Regions from separate parts of the Homo sapiens genome. Here all the other regions are linked to region 2. The links come from fine-mapping of genetic effects on gene expression. A gene starts in region 2. Each other region holds a variant in brackets. All regions are shown on one strand. Distances are between the middles of the regions.

Evidence for each region. PIP is the estimated chance that this variant, and not a neighbour inherited with it, causes the effect.
Region 1: its variant is fine-mapped to the expression of PCM1 in whole blood (TOPMed, PIP 0.96).
Region 3: its variant is fine-mapped to the expression of PCM1 in whole blood (TOPMed, PIP above 0.99). The same link has a PIP of 0.9 or more in gastroesophageal junction, tibial nerve and visceral fat.
Region 4: its variant is fine-mapped to the expression of PCM1 in whole blood (INTERVAL, PIP 0.91).

What each region holds. Positions count from the first base shown.
Region 1 is chr8:18,033,719-18,036,482 of GRCh38, reverse strand. LOC124901894 (a long non-coding RNA gene) reads left to right here. Exons shown (of 2, transcript XR_007060836.1): 2 at 2,317-2,495. Among named protein-coding and RNA genes, the nearest start is that of ASAH1, 49 kb to the left of the region's middle. The variant G/A (reference allele first, on the strand shown) is at 1,593.
Region 2 is chr8:17,921,530-17,924,293 of GRCh38, reverse strand. It overlaps PCM1 (pericentriolar material 1), which reads right to left and starts at 1,306. Exons shown (of 39, transcript NM_006197.4): 1 at 1,106-1,306. LOC124901867 reads left to right here. Exons shown (of 4, transcript XM_047422505.1): 2 at 67-137; 3 at 528-785; 4 at 948-2,764. The coding sequence ends at 1,630. RefSeq lists enhancers at 279-338, 1,489-1,938 and a silencer at 800-1,094.
Region 3 is chr8:17,955,067-17,957,566 of GRCh38, reverse strand. PCM1 (pericentriolar material 1) reads right to left here. Exons shown (of 39, transcript NM_006197.4): 10 at 1,914-2,097; 11 at 790-963; 12 at 146-303; 13 at 1-27. Among named protein-coding and RNA genes, the nearest start is that of PCM1, 33 kb to the right of the region's middle. The variant C/A (reference allele first, on the strand shown) is at 989.
Region 4 is chr8:17,995,395-17,997,894 of GRCh38, reverse strand. All of the region lies in intron 29 of PCM1 (pericentriolar material 1), which reads right to left. Among named protein-coding and RNA genes, the nearest start is that of PCM1, 74 kb to the right of the region's middle. The variant C/G (reference allele first, on the strand shown) is at 1,015.

The sequences.
Region 1 (2,764 bases), 110 kb before region 2:
TGGAAAACTCAATATTGTTTCCATTTCCATTTCCTCCAAATTATAAGTTCAATGCAATTCTAATAAAACTCCCAGCAGGTTTTTGGTTTGTGAAAACTGAAATTGAAAATGCAAAACATGAAAATGAAAAGAACATAGCCAAAAATGTCTGCAAAAGAACAAAGTTAGAGGACTTAACGTTTCTTTTTCTTTCTTTTTTTTTTTTTTTTTTTTTTTTTTTGGGGGAGCAAGATGAAGACAAACTTTATTGAGTGTTAGAACAGCTCAGAGGAGATTTTTTTTTCTGTATCCCAAGTCATCAAGCAAGGACTTACGTTTCTTAATTTCAAGACTTACTATAAAGCTATAGTAGTCAAGACAGTGTAATACTGATGTAACAATAGACATATAAATCAACAGAACATAACAGAAATTCCAGACATAGAGCCACACATATATGGTCAATTGATTTCCACAAAGGTAACAAGACAGTAGGAAAAGTCCTTTGAACAAATGAAGGCACTGGATTTCTATATAGGAGAAAAATAGAACCTGATCCTTACCTCATACCATACCAAAAAAAAATTACTTAAAATAGATGATAGAGCTTAAATATGTAGGACAAAGAATGATTATCCATATATTTTATATATATAAAGATTCTTAGAGCTTAAGATATTTATTGTTAGGATTTCTAGCAATTAAATTGCTATGCCAAAGACGGTACCTTGAACTTTTTAGTGCACGTTGCCAAACTACAGGTGGCATCAATTTTTCTGGACCTTTTAGTGGGAAATTAGGGCAGGGGTCTCTTTCCAGAAACCCTTAGGAGATATTCTTCAATTTGACTAACAGCCTAGTTTTTCTGAAGGTTTTCCAATGATTACTTTAAAATCTATTGTTGTATGTTATCATTAGATTCACTGCATTTTAAACTTAAATTTCATGTTAATTTCAAATTATATCAATCAACTAATATGACTTACCTATTAGCAGACTTGGAATAGATAAGCATATATTTCATTTTCCTCAGCTGAAACTTTTCTCTCTGAAAAGTACTATTATAGGAATATTCCACTGTTTTTGTTAAAACTGTTGAAGTGGAGAAGAATCCATTTGCCATAGTTAAATAAGATGTCCAATCCTTCTTAGTAAAACATACTGATGACCTTGAATCTCTCTTCGAAATACTCAAATTTACTTGTTTATGTAACAGATATTGAAAAATTTCTACATTCCAGGATCTGCTTAAAGACAAGAAATATTGCAGTGAACAAAGCAGAGAAAAATTCCTACCCTTAAAGAGCTTACATTCTAACTGAGGGGGTGGAGAAAGACATAAAATAAGTAAAATATTGTTAACTGTGGATAAGTAATATGGAGAAAAATAAGCTGAGGGCAAGAAGATAAAAATAAACTGTGGGGAGGTGCAATTTTAGGTTGGATACATAAAGAAGATTCACTAAACGTCTGCCATAAAAATATCTGAGGAAAGAACATTCTAAGTAGAGGTAACAGTAAATGCAAAAGGCCCTGCATGCAATGATGCCTGGCAGGTCTGAACAGCAAAGAGGTCAGTGTGACTGAAGCACACGGAAAATAAGAAAGGAAGA[G/A]GTAGAGAATTGTCCTGTAGGGCCTTCTGAAGTCATTTTTGCTTTTACTTGGAATAAAATAGGAAGCTACTGGTATCATCTGAACAGTATCACTTTGGTTGCTGTGCTGAGACTAGATTATAGAAAGTCTAGGAAGTGACGGGTCTGGCCATTAGGAGGCTACTACAGGAATCGAGGCAAGAGATAAGAGTGACTTGAATAAAGATGGCAGTGGAAGAGGTAGTGAAAACCAGCTGGATTCGACTTACTTTTTAAAGGTGTAGCTGACCATATTTACTGAAGGGTTGGATGAAGGGTTTGGGATACAGAGTTGAGCCACAGACAATGTCAAGGGGTTTGTCCTAAGAAAGTAGAAGGATGGAACTGGCACGTACTAAGATGAGAAGACTAGAACAATCAGATGTGGGGCAACCAACAACTCCGTTTTAACACGTCAATATCTAGTATCTATGTGAACCTTAACATAAACCTTAACATACTTCCATATGAATTTTTTGAATCTTACCATACAGAAAGACTCTAACGCCAAGGGTGGCAAACTAACTTAAAGTATCATTTAGTTGTTTAAGGTTGGAGAATGGACTACAATAACTGACTAGTTTTTCAAAGCCTAGGAGTGGGAAGAAAAACAGTTTATTGTAGTATCCTTCTTCTGTGTTGTCGACTAAGTAACATGCCCCAAAAAGACTTGAGGAACAAGAAGTCCCTGTTTTTTTTTTTTCAGGCAGTGCCACCATGCCAAAGAGAAGTCCAGAAGCCTCCCAAGTCATAGAAAATGGACAAAAGTTGGGGTCACCTGAATCCTTGTAATTTAATCCCATTTTTGTTATAAAATAAAGAGTTACTATGGTTTTTCACTTTCTTATTCGCTGGGACTTCAATAAACACCGATAATTATTTGTATAATTGCTCATTCACTAATTTCCATTTTTAATTCTTTTCGTAAGTCTTCCTTTGAAAATACTAAAAGCATCCTTGGATCTAGGATAATTCTTCCTGCATTTCACAGATAGGAAAATGAAGAACAGCAGGGTTTTTGGGTTTTTTTTTGCATTGTACATTTCCAAATGTCATAGAAACCCTATCTCTTTGTTGCTTTATTATAATACTGTCCAAATATTTCCTGGTAAGGAATTGTAGGTTAAAACCAAAAGCATTCTAACATATATCTA
Region 2 (2,764 bases):
CCTCGTCACTACATAAATACCAGGTTTACCTTCAATTCAAAAACTCTGTATTATATTGGTGTTCAGGGGTCCTCACCAGGAAGGTGCTAGGGAAAGAAAGGAGCAGGTGCACCCGAGGCTCTGCAACACCCACTCCGGTAACCAGAGAACACCAGCAGGCGGAGTCTGGAAAGCGGTTATGGGGCGGGGGTGGTAGGGGCGCCCAGAAAGCCCGCTCCTTCCAGCGCCCAAACACGAACCGTCACCCGTAAGACACACAATACAGACCTCAACTCGCTCAAAAAAACAAAACAAAACAAAAAAAATTAAACCAGGCGAGTTCCTGGGGAGTAGGCTGAGGGATGCAAAGTTGGCGCGCCCAGCCTCCCTGGCGGGGCCTAATCCCCAAACGCCAGTTTCTGTAAACCAAACAACGTTTCCCCCAGTCCCACTTGGCATTTAGTCTTTCCCGGTTCTAGGCCCAATTCTAACTAGATAGGTAGGAAGGGAGAAAGAAGGGGCAATAATTACTCCATTAACCTTCCCAGGAACGCCTCCCCCGGCCCATCGGCTCCCACAGCACCAGAGACGGCGGAAATCCTGCAGCTCACAGCCCAACTGCAACTCTTCAGAGTCGCGTCGCTCCTCATCCGCCCTTCTACACCCCAAACTCTGGACACCGAGAGTTCCACAGAGGGAACGCGGGGAAGAACTATGGCCACCAAGGCCTGTTTCTCTAAGAACTCGACCCAGTGCCCCTAGCACCCAAACCAGAGTCCCCGCTCCGCTTCCTCCGCCCGCAAGGGGTATAGCCGGAGCCACCGGGACGCAGAACAGCCTCCCCGACAGGGCCAGCAGGAGGGGCGAGGAGGCAAGAAGGGAGTCCTGCAATCACCAACGCGTCGCGAGGTGCTCACCCGGGGATCCCGGCGATCAGTCCTGAGGGAGCGGGCGGACTGACCGCCTAGGGCACGGGAAGCCCGGGGCAGGAAGACCCGGGAACCTACAGAGGAGGCGTGGGCCCGTGGCCAGACCCAACAGGGCCGAGTGTCCCGGAGCCGTTACTCTCCCGCCTCTGGGGCGCGCCGCCCTAGGTTGCCAAGGGCTGGGGACGCGCAGGCATTACCTCTACAAGAAGCAGCCTCTCCTGTCAAAGGCAGAGCGACAGTCAGCCCCCACGACCCGCCGCCGGCAGCGGTCGGCCCTCGGAGACCGCAGCAGAGAGGCCCACACGTTTCCTGGCTGCCTCGGCCCCAGTGGCCGCCTTTTCGACCTCAGCTACGCAGCGCCAACCGCCGCAGCCACCGCCATCTTAGGATCTCATTGTGGTGGGAGAAGAGGGGCGGGGGTACTGCAGAGGGGGCAACGCGCGGCGGGACATGCGCCGTCTCCTCGGCAACGGCCGCGCGGGGGCGAGAACTCGCCCGGGCGGGAGCCGCAATGCGAGCTAGACTGGAGTCATGTGACCCGCCGGAGTCTGTGGTGTCGCTTCTGGCTCTTTAAGCCGAAAAGAGATTACACCAACGAATCCGCCCCCACCCGCCCAGGAACTATGTATCCCAGAATGCCAACTAGACCTCGCGTTCTAAACGCCTGCCGGCCACAGGTGGAGGACTACAAATCCCAGCATGCCGTGCGCTTCCGGCGCTGATCGCGGAGCGTGGGGCCCTAGGCCTATGCGGAAGTGCATTGATCCCTCAGCCCGTGGAGAAAGAGCGGAGGCGCTGTGCGGTTTTCCGTGGGGGTGTCAGCTCCGGCCCGTGCCGGAAGAAGGAGCCAAGACCGGGATCGCTTTTTTGCCCCTTCCTCACCCCACATTCGGTCACGAAGAGGTGGAAACAAAAGGACACTTACAATGTAGTCCAACCTCCTGATTTTACATATGAGGGGATTGTTCCACGGAAGTTAAACAATTTGCCAGACGTCATTATGTATCTACTGAGTGAGAGAATCATAAATATTGTTGATAGTTAACGCCACTTTTGGTTAATGTCCCTTTTCCTTAAAAGAGCCAGATGATTTTAATCCAAACTTAATTTCAGTAAATTTTCTCTGAACTATCTTTTTATTTATACTCTCCTGTTACAGCTCTATTAAGATTAATAAATTGGCAGGTCCTCCCTTTAAAAAACAAAAATCAATAAAGTCACAAGGCCTTCAATGTGCCTGACTGGAAAGGTAAAACACCTGTCAGTTTTAGTTGAGTGCAAGGGCATTCTTCTAGTTTTACGCAGTTTATAATTATGGAATAACTTTTTAAGCAAAATAAAGGTAAAAAGAAGAATTGCATTCTGGGTTTCAACAACAAAAACAAATTGTTCCCAAAATAGTAGGTCTGCATCTCAGTACGCAATTCACATAAAGCTCTTCTATCCCACTGCAATCTGCCACCGTAGGTTCAGTCGTGAGTGCATTGATCGTTGGTCAGACACTTTTTCCTCATATTCTGTGTGTGTATCGCTAACTACTGCGGTAGCAAAAATATAGTCCCTGCCCTTGAAGAGCTCATATTTTAGTGAAGGATGCGGAAGTGGAGTGTGATGTAAATAAAGTTTGTGTTGTAAGAAAAAGTGCTGTGGGAGCTCAGAACACAGCAGCTAAACGCTCAGGTGTTTATTGTAGTCCAGAATGCCCTATCCTAATTCCACCACTCCAAGATCCTGGACAAGCGACGTGCCTTTCTGAGCCTTAATTGCCCCATCTATGAAATGAGGGGGAAGGAATGATACTGCCTACCTTGAAAGGATTTTTTAAAAAATGTTCTCAGAGTTTGTTTTATGCCAGG
Region 3 (2,500 bases), 33 kb before region 2:
GTTCCCCTTCTCTATTATATCGACAATCTGCTGAAAACATGTATAATTAAAACCAGTAACTTTTAAAGGAAAGAGCACACATGAACGAAAACCCACTTTGTAAGAATAACACAGCAAAATTATATGTAAATACAGTCAGTCATACCTAAAGAAGGAGGCATGTTTAGAGCCCTTATGTTGGCAGCAGATCTGTTGTTAATTTCACAATTAGAATTAACTGTTCGCCCATCTCTATTATTAGAAACACACTGTGCATTACTATGACTATTTACTTCATTCCAAGTGGAAGCTACTTGTGGATTTCTAGAAGAAAGAAAACAGCCTGAAGTCATTTAAGGCACAAAAAAAGAGAGAAAGAAATCCAAGTTTAGAACTGCTAATAAAATAACACCAAACCAAGCACATTGTTGGCTATTCCATTTAAATTCAAATTGAATAATCGACTCCTGCTTTTCATTAACTTCTGCATATGTGCTATTTAAGTAGAAAAACATCTGAAAAAATGAAAATTACGCCTAAAAAGAAAAAGACAGCAAAATGCTAAGTTAGATACATCTCATGATTTACTCGAATTCAGTCTAACAAAGGGCAAATTTACTGAACTATTGTACTCCATACTTCCCTATTCATCTTTCTTCACAGGGCAGAGATGATTACACTGACCAAAATAGTAGAAAGCTTAAATAAAAGGCAAATAGTAAATACTACAACGAAGTATTTTTGTTCCCACATTATAAGTATCAAGACAGAATGAATATGCTGGAAAAACATCCCCAGAAAAGTTCTTACCGAATGTTAGTAACAGGCTCGGAATTTTCATGCTCAGAATCATATTCTGACTCTTCAGTTTCTTCATCTTTCCTGTTTTCATTCACAGCATCTGTCATCATGTCTGACGTTTGTTCATAATAATGAACTAATTCTCTTAGCTCATTCAATCTCTTTCGAACTTCATTTAACTTCCTGATAAACAAAAAATTTATGTATA[C/A]GATTTACACCCATTTTAGCAAAATAATACAGACATTATTTTCATATCATAGCAGCTAACAGAAACAAAATTTAGACCTAATGGAATATCCACCTAGTGAACTCTCCAGGGGGTATGACTGTAAAATAATGAGGTTAATGCCAAGTACAGCTTACTCAAAATCTCACATTATTTTCTTATGCTGTTTTAGGGACAAAAGTGTAAGAAAACCAATTTCAATTTAATTGTTCATTTTAAGCAGGTGTAAATGTTAATAGCAGAAAACCTGATGTCAAAAAGATTTCTAGTTTCTCAAGTATCAAAAGTGTGAAGTACTACTAAATACTACCTCTCAGGAAAATCAGGTATACAGACATTACTGAGCATGTATGGAAGGTTCTTGATTTGTCTGCACATATGAGATCTATACACTACATACTACGTTTACCAAAAATAAAAATTAAGTTAGCTGAGTTCTTACTGTAAGTGCCAGGAACTGCGCCAACGTTTTTTAATGAAAACATATTTATCAACAGGTATATTATCATCCCTATTTTGCAGATGAGGAAATACAGGCTTAGTAAGGCTAAGTTATTTGTACAGGGTAACACAGCCTTGTGTGATACAATTTCAGGGCTGTCTGATTCTACAGCCTGGTCTCTAAACCATCTGAATATAGAAATATTTTAACTGTAATCTTATTTTTGATCCTTTATTTGAAAAACAAGAAAGTAACATCAGTTCACAGAAACTATGTTACATCACATCTCTTAGACAACTCAAATTATGCCCACACAACACACACACGCCTCTTCTACCTATCCCTTAAGAATGTTTACAACAATATTAAATAAATCTCGTTTTGCAGAATTTTCAACATAAAAAAAAAAACAGAATTTATCCCTATTATTTAACTTCATGTAAACAATGATTATAAATGTTTTACTGGAGTTTTTCAGATGGATTGAGGTGGCCTTCGTTTTCACTCTCATTCTGAGATACTAGAGAAGCAGTAGGATAAGGAACAGATGATGTGAGGCTATTGGATTCTCCATTGACAACCGGTGCCAAGCCTACAGAAGCAGAGGGAGCTGAAGTACTTCTCTGATCGACACTCCTTTGTGGAGAGGCTGAAGAAGGCACAACAACAAAAAATTTTTTTTAATCACCAGTTACCATAAACAAACACATACAGTTGGCTTGGATATTGAAAACTAAAAAGTAAAAATTAACAACTTAATTTCTGCAGATTTAAATTTCAGAAAATTGTTTATTAACTTACTCCACAATTAAACACATCAAAATGTACAAAGACTTGTTTACCTCTTTCTTCCACAGGTTCTATCACCTTTACAATATAACCACTGGGTTAAAACAGAAAGGAAAGAAAAAAGATGGAAATTGACAAGAATAATGATATTCTACCTTGGAAAACTAACTAGAGAAGTACTCTAGTTAGTTTTAACTAACGAGTAAACTTGGTAACTAACTTGATAAACTTGGTTCTAGGTTAAGTTAAACAGGGCCACTATG
Region 4 (2,500 bases), 74 kb before region 2:
CCAGCTACTTTTTTTTTTTTTTTGTATGTTGTAGTAGAGGCGGGGTTTCACCGTGTTGGCCAGGCTGGTCTCAAACTCCTGACCTCAAGTGATCACCCGCCCCAGCCTCCCAAAGTGCTGGGATCACAGGTGTGAGCCATAGCACCTGGCCGGGAATTCAGAATTCTATATTCATAGATAAATTTAATAAACAGATTGAGATAATTTAAAAGAATCAAGCAGAAATTCTAGAGTTGAAAAACGCAACTGACATACTAAAGAATGCATCAATCTCTCAATAGAATTGATCAAGCTAAAGAATTAGCTTGAAGACAGGCTCTTTGAAAACACACAACTTGAGGAGACAAAAGAAAAAAAAAGTAAAACACAATAAAGCACACCTACAGGATCTGCAAAATAACCTCAACAGGACAAATCTAAGTTATTGGCCTTAAAGAGGGGGTAGAGAGAGACAGAGGTAGTAAGCTTAACAACATTCAAGTACAAGAAGGTTACAGAAAACCAGGATAGTTTAATCCAAATAAGACTATCTCAAGGCATTTAATAATCAAACTGCCAAACATCAAGGATAAAGAAAGGACCCTAAAAGCAGCAAGAGAAAAGAAACAAATAACATATAATGGGGTTCCAATATATCTGGCAGTAGACTTGTCACTAGAATCCTTACAGGTCAGGAGAGAGTGTCATGACATGTTTCAAGTGCTGAAGGAAGAAAACTTTTACCCTAGAATAGTACATCCAGCAAAAATATCCTTCAAACACGAAGGAGAAATACTTTCCCAGACAAAAGCTGAGGGATTTCATCAACACCAGACCTGTCTGACAAGAAATACTAAATACTTTATTTCCATCTAAAAGAAGACATTAATGAGCAGTAAGATATCGTCTGAAGGTACAAAATTCACCAGTAATAGAAAGTACACAGAATATTATAACACTGTAATTGTGGTGTGTAAACTACTCTTAAGTGGAAAGACAAAATGATGAACCAACCAAAAATAGTAGCTACAACAA[C/G]TTTTCAAGACATGGTACAGTAAGATATAAAGAGAAACAACAAAGAGTTAAAAAGCAGGGAAACAAAGTTAACATTTGCATAAGTTTTCATTTTGTTTGCTTGTTTGTTTATGCAATCAGTGTTATCGGTTTAAAATACTGAGTTATAAGACAGTATTTGCAATCCTCATGGTAACCTGAAATCCAAAAACATACATATAACAGATACGAAAACAATGGATGTTAAAAAACAAGAAAAGCATGAGCAAACCAAACCCAAAATAGAAGAAATAATAAAGATCAAAGCAGAAATAAATGAAATTGAAATAAAATACAAAAGAGCAACGAAACAAAAAGTTGGTATTTTAAAAGATACATAAAATTGGCAAACCATTAACCAGACTAAGAAAAAAAGACAAAAAACCCAAATAATATCAGAGATGAAAAAGGAGACATTACAACCGATACCTCGGAATTCAACAACACATTAAAAAGATGATCCATCGTGACCAAGTGGGATTTATCCCAGGGATGCAAGGATGGTTCAACATAGGTAAATCAATCAATGTAATACATCATATCAACAGAATGAAGGACAAAACCCATATGATCATTTTAACTGATGCTGAAAAACCATTTGATAAAATTCAACATCCTTTCATGATAAAAGCCCTCAAAAAACTGGGTATAGAAGAAACATACCTCAACATACTAGAAGCCATATACAACAGACCCACAGCTAGTATCATACTAAATGGGGAAACACTGAAAGCCATTCCTTTGTGATCTGGAACACAACAAGGATGTCCACTTTCACCACTGTTATTCAACATAGTACTGGAAGTCCTAGCTAGAGTAATCAGACAAGAGAAAGAAATAGAGGGGATCCAAACTGGAAAGGAAGAATCAAATTATCCTTGTTTGTATATGATATATATATAATCTTATACTTGGAAAAGCCTAAAGACTCCACAAGAATACTATTAGAACTGATCAACAAATTCAGTAAAGTTGCAGGATACAAAGTCAACACACAAAAATCAGTAGCATTTCTATATGCCACCAGTAATCTCATTTACAACAGACACAAATAAAATTAAATACCTAAGAATTAACCAAATAAGTGAAAGATCTCTACAATGAAAACTATAAAACACTGATGAAAGAAATTTAAAAAGACACAAAAAGGGAAAGATATTCCATGTTCATGGATTGGAAAAATCAATATTGTTAAAATGTCTGTACTCCCCGAAGCAATCTACAGATTCAATACAATTGTGATCAAAATACCAATGACATTCTTCACAGAGAAAAAAGAATCCTAAAATTTATAGGAACCACAAAAAAAGCTCAGAACAGCCAAAGCTATCTTGAGCAAAAAGAACAAAACTGGAAGAATCACATTAACCTGCCTTCAAATTATACCACAGAGCTATAGTAACCAAAACAGCGTGGTACTGGCATACAAACAACAGAAACACAGACCGACAGAACAGAACAGAGAACC